Regions from separate parts of the Homo sapiens genome. Here region 1 is linked to region 2. Evidence: fine-mapped expression QTL. A gene starts in region 2. The other region holds a variant in brackets. All regions are shown on one strand. Distances are from middle to middle.

Evidence for each region.
Region 1: its variant is fine-mapped to the expression of POMT2 in unexposed skin (GTEx, PIP 0.96).

What each region holds. Positions count from the first base shown.
Region 1 is chr14:77,295,651-77,300,006 of GRCh38, forward strand. POMT2 (protein O-mannosyltransferase 2) reads right to left here. Exons shown (of 21, transcript NM_013382.7): 7 at 3,805-3,911; 8 at 3,039-3,121; 9 at 514-623. Among named protein-coding and RNA genes, the nearest start is that of POMT2, 23 kb to the right of the region's middle. The variant C/T (reference allele first, on the strand shown) is at 2,699.
Region 2 is chr14:77,319,052-77,323,432 of GRCh38, forward strand. POMT2 (protein O-mannosyltransferase 2) reads right to left here and starts at 1,832. Exons shown (of 21, transcript NM_013382.7): 1 at 1,383-1,832. The coding sequence starts at 1,630. It overlaps GSTZ1 (glutathione S-transferase zeta 1), which reads left to right and starts at 1,985. Exons shown (of 9, transcript NM_145870.3): 1 at 1,985-2,132. The coding sequence starts at 2,118. RefSeq lists silencers at 1,319-1,368, 1,599-1,978 and enhancers at 2,059-2,328, 2,206-3,067, 2,599-2,648.

The sequences.
Region 1 (4,356 bases), 23 kb before region 2:
AGAAGAGGATACTGAAGCACAAGAAGATGAACTTGTCCAAAGTGACACTCTATATGAAAGCAGGCTTCACACCCCGATCATCTAGTCTGGTTCCCAGGTCTGTGTTCATAAATACCACACTTTATTCATCACCCATCCCATAGCAGGCACCGTGCTAGGCAATTGAGCCTTCCAGGAGCTAGCAATCAAGTACCAAAGAGACGGCGGGAAGTAAGCATGCACAGTTCAATATGAGAAGGTTTACCACGTAGGCATGTGGAAGGTGCCACCAAGCCTCTCATCAGAGGGGCACCCCACCCAGCACCATGGAGAGGTGGGACATGGTTGTCACTAAAGAACACCTATGCTGATGCCTAGAGAAGCTGGGGTTAGCCAGAGAAAACAGAAGGGTGCAGGGCTAGGAAGAATGTTTCAAGCAGGGCGAACAGGATGAGCAAAGGATAGGAGGCAAGAGAGTGAACTGTCATGGCGAACAGCATTGCTGCCGTACAAGTGCACAAAAGGCTCACTGACCTGCTGCTGACGGGCACCAATGCCCTCGGGGTAGAGGTGCCTGTGGGAGTGCAGATAGCCGATGGCCATCCGGAGGTTCTTCACAGTGATCACAGAGCCGTAGGCCAGGTCTGGGAGGAAGGGAGACAGCAGAGGGGTGAGCTGGCACAGTGCCAGAGGCTGTCCGTGCCTGCGAGGAGCCTCGGAAGCCACAGGGCTCACTAACCCTCTGCGAGACTCCCCTGGGCCCTGGACTGAAGCCCAGCTACCTTCTCACTCCCATGGAGCCGACTCAAGACAGAGTTCACCACAGGGCCCACTTACTCCCCCGCCTCCTGAGGGCTTCAGAAGAAGCTTGTGTTAACACTGTCATTATCAAAGCACTACGTGTAACAGCAAAAGACGAAAAACAACTTGTCCTTCTCAAGGTCTCCACATGGATTCAATGGAATAAAGAAGGAAGTATCTTCTGTCTTCGCCTGGAATGTTCTCCAAGATACAGCATTTTGACAAACCATTTTTTTCACTCTATATCCTTTCGTGCCTTTTGAATCTAGTACCATATGAAATAACTGTTCAATGGTGTTTTGTTTTACTCTGAATTAAAAAACAAAAAACACAGAAAACCACTTCTCAAGAGCATCCCCTGCTCCTATAGGCCCTGAGTTATTGAGAAACCTTTTTTCCTTAATACTGTCCTTCTTCCAATCCGCTGGAATGACCTGCTCCTGTTTTTCTTTGTTCATTCAGTGGACCAGAAGAATTACACACTGGATCCAAAGGTGGAGGAGGCCTGCCTGTGGCCCTGGAAGAGCCCTGTCTACAAGGAAGATGGCTTCACACACTGACAAGTATAGGACAGTGGGCAAGTGCCCCACAAAGGCGTGACAATGTGTGACATGGTGGGAATGGTGGGAACTCGGAACAGGCCAAATTCTCTCCCAAGGATTAAAGAGAGGACGACTTGATCGAAGAGGTGACAGCTGAACTAGGCCTTTAAATAATGAGCAGGAATTTGCTAAACTCCACAGCTGTGTTCTTCTGAGTTCTCAGGCAGGCCAACCTCGGCAGCCCTGCACATGGCTGACCACCTTTATTTCTTGAAATGCTCTCTGTTCCCACTTCTCGACCGCACACTCTCTCAAGGGCTGCTCCTCCGCAGTCTCCTCTCCTAATTCCTCCTCCTCTTGCATTCCCCAGTGATCTGACCTCAGCTCTATTCTTTTCCTCTTTCTACAGTTTCCTTACAAATCACAGCTACTGCCACAGCATCAATTACCGTTTTACTTGTCTGATTCCTCCTTTGAAAGCATCAGCCCCAAATCCCACTGGCCCCATGGCAACAATTTCCCCAAGCAGCTCACTATCAACCCCTCTCGCGTGGAATTCAGTATCTGCCCTTCCAACCCAACTTCTTCTCCTGCTTCCCTATTTCTCATTCTTCCCAGTCTGGGAGAGTCCGCTGTATTTTAGGCACTGTGCAAAGTCCTGGAAAGACTAAAATGAGTAAGATGCAGTCTCTGCCTCCAGGAAGCAATCACCTGCACTCAAGTCCTTAGTGACATCTTTCTTCCTCTCTTGCTGTGTCCAGATCTCCCTTGTATATGCCCATTTGCCTTACCCTGTGGCTGCCCCACCATACCCAGCTCAGGTTCCTGCAATAGCTTCCCAGAGGGTTTCTCTTGCCTACAATCCTGTCCCCTCCCCAGCCAGCCTCGACTCTCCCACCCATGTCATCTCCCTATAGCACAGCCTTCCTGGCCTCCTGGCTGCTCAAAGACCTCCACTAGGTCTCCACGGCCTGTTTTAGGAAGTCAAATACCTCATCCAGACACCTCAAACCCTCATAGTCTGGGCCCAACCTAACTTTTCACATTTATCTTCCAGTAGTTTTCTGCATATACCTGTGCCTCAAGTTTTACTCTGTCCTCAGCTTTGATCATGTCATCCCTCCTGCCTGAGATGCCCTCTCCTCTGTTGAAAGCCACACATTCTTCCAGGGCCTGACTCCAAGGCAACCCACATCACGAACCTCTGATGCCCTTAACCGCCCAGCAGCCATGCTCCTTCACGCCTGTCAATCCCCAGAGCTGTGCTCCCTCTTTACGTACTTAACGCTTCCAGCCACACCGTGTGGAGCTCCTCTACACCAGGCTCCATCTCTGGAGGGTGAGCACGCGCTCCACTACCATCTGTCATAGATGAA[C/T]GAATGCAACACTCAGAAAGCGGTGCGGGAAACCAAAAACTGGCTCTGAAGGGCCTGGTGCTGTCACCATATTCTCTCTGAGTGACCTTCCCACAGAGCTGGCTTGGAGAGCCACCAAGGAGAAGTCATTCTTTAGGGTCAGAGAGCTTGCTGCTCAGGATGTCTTCCTCTCCTCTGTCCTGATTCACTCTCGAGTATTTTCACCAGATCTATCTGGGTCTTTCTCCCACCGTGCCATCACAGGCTAAAATAACCCAAAGCCATCATATTTGTCTTTTCCAATTCAACTCCCAGGACACCCCTCTGCCTTCTACCTTTGTAATGGCCCAGAGACACTCACGTTCAGGGATGGAAGCATTGTGCAGGTTGTTCCCTGAAAGCCGGGCCTGGAAGGCAGAACTGAAGAAACCGTCACCAGGGCCACTGTGGGGAGAGGAAGAGCAGAAGAGAGTCAAGTTAAAGGAGTGAAAGTGTGATTTCCCAGGAGCGCTGGGAAGAGCTCTGCTCAGATAGTTTAAGGAAAGTAGAATCAGATCATGGGACAGAGGTGGGTGATGGAGTTGGAGAAACTGGGGTCCAAATCCCAACTCAGCCACTTACTAGCTGTGCGACCTTGGGCAAGATAACCTTGTTTAGCCTTAGTTCCTCATTTATAAACTAGAGATTTAAAGAAACCAAGAGAAGTCACAAGTGATTCTGATTAAATGAGATAATGTGTACAAAATGCGGAACACAGTTCCTGATTCTCAGTAGCTACTCATTAAGTGGGAGCTGTTGCCGCCGGAGTTACTGTTATTGTTACACTCACTCCTACTGCACATCTTATTGTGGCCTATCCTTGCTAAGTACAGGGGACTCTGTTTAGAGATAAGGGACAATTTGGCTATAACGAAAATAGCTTCTTCCTTCAGGTTAGGGTGCTGGCCTTTCTGAGCCCTTAGCATATACCCAAAGGATAGAACATAGCAGGAAAGAAACAGGAAAAAGCCCCTGGGGTCCCTCACCTATCATTTTAACCACAGACCCAGAAAATCATCCGACCCCTCCACAGGCTTAGGAGCAAAAGGAAAACCAGAAGCAAGATGCTGCAAAGGCTCTGTCTGTACCTTTTACTCAGCACCATGAAGTGAACAGCAAAGGTGGCTGTATAGAGAGCCAGGGGCAGCACTATGAGGCACAGGACACGAGCAGTCAGGTGTTTTCCCACAGTCACCTGCAAACAGAGGCCAGCGTGGGGTGCTAGGCATGTGAGACCTCATTATTCCTTAGGCACTATGCATGCATTATATATAGCTTTTAATATATCAGTCATAATCATAAAAAATGGCCAAGAGGAGAGAGAAGAATATGTGGAAACCCTAAGCCTTTCTGTAACACCCACCACCCAAGCACTACACAAGATAAACATGGGCCAGCCCTCTGCTACCTCTCCAGGCTCTACACCCAAAACCCCAGGATGTTACTGTGCCAAGGACAAGGCACCTGCATCTGCAACACAGTTGCTCACCAGTCCGCTCCATGTTCCAGGTACACTAACCTCCTTGAACTTTCCCAGTGCTTCCTCTACTGTCCCAGCCCAACCCATCACATGGCTAATGGCTCCTTATCTTAACTTCGCGGCTTCCTTCCAGAGGCCTTCCTGGATTGCCTGGGACTGG
Region 2 (4,381 bases):
AAAAAAATTTTTACAAGGGTAGTGGGCTATTGTAATTACTGGTAATGACACCAAAGATCAGAGATCAATCTGAACCCCTGTGCACAGGTCACAGTGGTTAATAGACTGGTCTTAGACTGCAGCCCAGATGTCTGAAATAAGATTCCTCGGTGCCCCCAGGACTTATTCACAAGTGGCTGAATCCAGGACCCTGGAGGGCATGGTTGAGGTAAATACTGTAAGCTGGCCTTATTCTGCTGCTTAGAGTCCCATTGACAACAACCTTAATTAAATGCTGTAAGGGACAAACTGAAAAGATGTGAGTAGCCAGGGGAGTTGTATATTCATGTGAAAATCTGCTAGAAGCCAAGACCATAGAATCGAGGAGTGAGAGAGGCTGTCAGATTGCTCGTGCCTCTACACATCATTCTGGGTATACCAAGAATGCAAGGCCCTGACTGCATCTCACCTGGGCCATTTCTCATGGTTGTGTTTGCAGCAAGCAACTTTGAGAGAAGAGGCAGTGTCTCCCTCCAGGACAAAGAGGAGGTCTGCGTACTGCCTTCTATAAAACAGCAGATTTTCCAAGCTTGTCGTTCCTTCACTTGGATGCAACCCACTGCCTGTGCAGTCATCCATTTAAACCCATAGCGTCACCCTGTGGGACTTGGATGGCAAGGGAAACTGCTTCTAACATGCATCCTATTTCCTGTAATAAAGTCCTTTGTCTCTAACCCAGGAGTCTCATCTTCTGCCAGCAGTCACGACACAATAACAAGCTAATTTATTAATTTCTAAATAAAGCAACCCTGACAGTCTGTTTTCTTGCCTGCTTTTTGCTTAAAGAATTCCATTTCTGACACCCAGTATCTGGATAGTACAAGCTAAAACCTTTAAGAAAATAAATCTCTTCTCACAAGAAGAGTTCTGCCTCATAAAATCCTTTGGTCACCATACCTGAACACCCAAACTGTCCTTGCCCTATAGGATAAAGGTACACAGTTAGGTATTTTCTCCTCTGTTGATGCCTGAAAATCCTGCAGACATAGGAACTCAGGCCTTAGAAAATTCTGTACCCAAAAATTTGCAATTCTCTTTGGAAAGTTGAAAGCACCTTTAAAAGCCACAATTTGCAAGCCAGGTGATGCACTGTAGCATAACCTGGAAGACATGAGGGCTGCTTCCTCAGATACTAAGAATCCCACTGCCCCACCACCAGAGCAAAACGATCCCCCTCCCAGAGAATGCACCTCGCCAGAGGCCAACCCACCCGATACCTCAAGTTCCCCTCCACCGTGGCCCTCCTCCTATAGATCCCGCCCCCTCCGTACCCTCGGGCCAATCAGAGGGCGGCGTCCCGTCGCGGTTGCCATGGTGCCCGCCGAGTCCCTCCCATCACTCACCAGATGTGCGGCGGCTCGTCCAAGCGGTGGAAGCGGGTGGCGAAGGACAGCAGCGTCACCAAGGCCAGCAGGGCCCACCAGCCGACCGCCTCGAAGCGCCGTGAGCCCCAAGCAGGCCGTTTGGGGCTTCGCGCCACAGCCTCAGCGGCCACGTCCCGGCCTGCGGCCCTAGCAGCCTGGGGGCCACAGCGGCCCCTCCGGGGACGCAGCTCGGACTCTGCCAGGCCTCCGCCCGTGGCCGGCGGCATCTTCCCCCTCCTCTGGGTCGCCCTCCGGCCCGGAGGCACACTTTGTCTGACCAGCCGCCCCGCCAAGGAGTCACAAGAGGGCAGCTCGGGGTACCCCGGGAAATGCAACGCCCTTCACTGCAGCGGAGCGCGGGGCCCCGGGCTCGGGGCGGGGCGGGCAGCGTGGTCGCGGCCCGGGCCGCTAGGAGGCGGCAGGAGGCGCAGAGCATGTCGGGACCGGGAGGGCCGGCCGGCCCGGGGCGGGGGGGACTGGGCAGGAGGGGTCGGGCTCAGGGAACTGCAACTCCCAGCAGCCCCCAGGTACGGGGCGTGGCGGGAGAGCTGGGCGAGCCAGAGGCGACCGGAAGGATCTTTCTAGTCCAGCCCCTCGCTTTACCCGGACGAAAGACACGGGCCTGATTCGTCGAGTCTCACTGAGCCTTAGTCGTCGGCAGGTCCCAGGCGCGAAGTTTCTCGGCCTGGAGGAGGGGGTCGCGCGAAGTGCCAGATGCAGGCGGGGAAGGTCTGTGACGCGCACCCGGGTGGAGGGAAGCTGGTTAGACACCTGGAGACCCTGGGGGGCGGGGTCAGAAGTGAGCTGCACCGCCCGCCCAGGCCGACAACGACTCCCGGCATGCAGTGCTTTGCGCCGGGCACGCTCTGCGCCTGCGTGCTGCGCGCTGCCCGCTGGGGCTCGAAGTTCCGGGAGGGTTGGGCCAGAGGAGGCGGTCCTGGTAGGGAGTGCGTAGCAGGGTGGAGTCGCTGTCCGGTCGCGCTTCACTTCTGCTCCGCCCTCCCTGCTCCCCATAACAGACCCCTCCCTCCACTAAGGCTTCCAAACGTCGCCCCAAGCCTCCCAATTTCTCGCAGCCCTTCATGCTCTTCTCTTGGCCCTAGCAGGAGGTGACCTTCCAGTAATGTTTGTATTTTAAGAGTCCCCGGGCCGGGCGCGGTGGCTCACGCCTGTAATCCCAGCACTTTGGGAGGCCGAGGCGGGCGGATCACAAGGTCAGGAGATAGAGACCATCCTGGCTAACACGATGAAACCCTGTCTCTATTAAAATACAAAAAAATTAGCCAGGCGTGGTAGCGGGCGCCTGTAGTCCCAGCTACTCGGGAGGCTGAGGCAGGAGAATAGCGTGAACCCAGGAGGCGGAGCTTGCAGTGAGCCGAGATCGCGCCACTGCACTCCAGCCTGGGCGAAAGAGCGGGACTCCGGCTCAAAAAAAAAAAAAAAAGGCCCCGAGCGAGGAGAGGCAGTCATGACAATCACCTGGGGAGCTTCACGGCTTTCACATGTTCTTCCCGGGGCCTGCTCCAGAGCCACTCTGTTCATCTCTGGTGGAACGGGCTCGAGAATCTGCATGTTTTTATAAGCGGTCTAGATGGTTCTTAACGTGCCATGAAGTTTGAGAACCACTTTTGTGGCACTAAGGAAGGTGGCACGTTAGATGGGACTTTGCGTCACGTTAATAATGTATAGTCCTCCCTCTTCCAAATGGGATTTTAGGAGTCTTTTTCTCAAATCATGTGTAAGACATGGTTTAAAAATAAAATCTGCTAAAGTAATCAGAATGCATATTTGAATTGGAAACACAGGTCTTCTAGGAGTGCTGATGAGATGGATACTTGGGCTTAAAGTTTAGTTCTACAAGTGCAGAAAGGAACGGGGCATGGTTTACATAGTTATCACTGGTAAGAGAAGGCAGAAATTGCCTAAGAGATTTCAGGTTTCCTGCTTGTGGGTCGTGACGGAGGGCAGCAGCATTTACCATGCTTCTGGTCACTCGTAGTACAGATCCAAAGGTGTAATCCAAAGGCATTTAGCCATTAGGTAAGGCATTTCTTCAGGGATTCTAAGCTAATTAATGTCTGCCACACTCTAGTGGTCACCAGCAGTCCCTGTCCCTTGGCACCAGGAGTCCCTGTAGCCTGGCTAGGTAAGGAAAGGGAGTTGCATCTCCAAATAAGGAAGATCCAGTTGTGGCCACCCAATTCCTCCTCTTCGAAAGACACTTTCTGCCCATCACCTGCTTTCTGTGCCAGGACCATCTTTACTTTCTCCACAAAAGGTACCTTCAGGACAGGCTGGGACTGCTGGGCTTGGGAACCATCTTGGAAGGGCCTAGGTTCCCACTTACACCCTTGCCATCTAGCAGACTGAGTTGGTAGTACAGGGATGGCAATAGCAAGTTCAGAGAGCAGCTTAATATGCTAGGGGTGGCAGAGGGGAGAGGGAGCTTTGGTGAAATGTCTATAGTCAGAGGGGTAGTAAACAGGGCATCTGAGAAGTTCTTTCAAGTTCTCCCCTATCCATAGGGATACACATGTTTTGGTGGGAAGATTCATGAGTGCTAATCACTGGCGAGTCTTTCCTGGGTTCCACTTTGAAATGCTGGCTCCCGAAGAAGTACCAGAGAAATTAACTTTGAGCCCCTTAAACCTTGGAGTAGAGATCGCACACCCAGCTGCCCCCAAGGGCCCAAAGGTAACAAAAATGAGAAAAGTGGGCCAGATATGGGCCATGGCAGACCTGAGAGCGCATACGCTGGTTGATGGGGGCCATTAGTCTGTTCCCATCAATTGCTGCTATTTAGGAACCCAAATCTGTCTCCAGATTTTTTTAAAGAAAAAAAACAAACAGGTGTTGTATATAAAATATCATGATTTTTATTTTTATTTTATTTTATTATTTATTTATTTTGAGATGGAGTCTTGCTCTGTCCCCCAGGCTGGAGGGCAGTGACACGATCTTGGCTCACTGTATCCTCC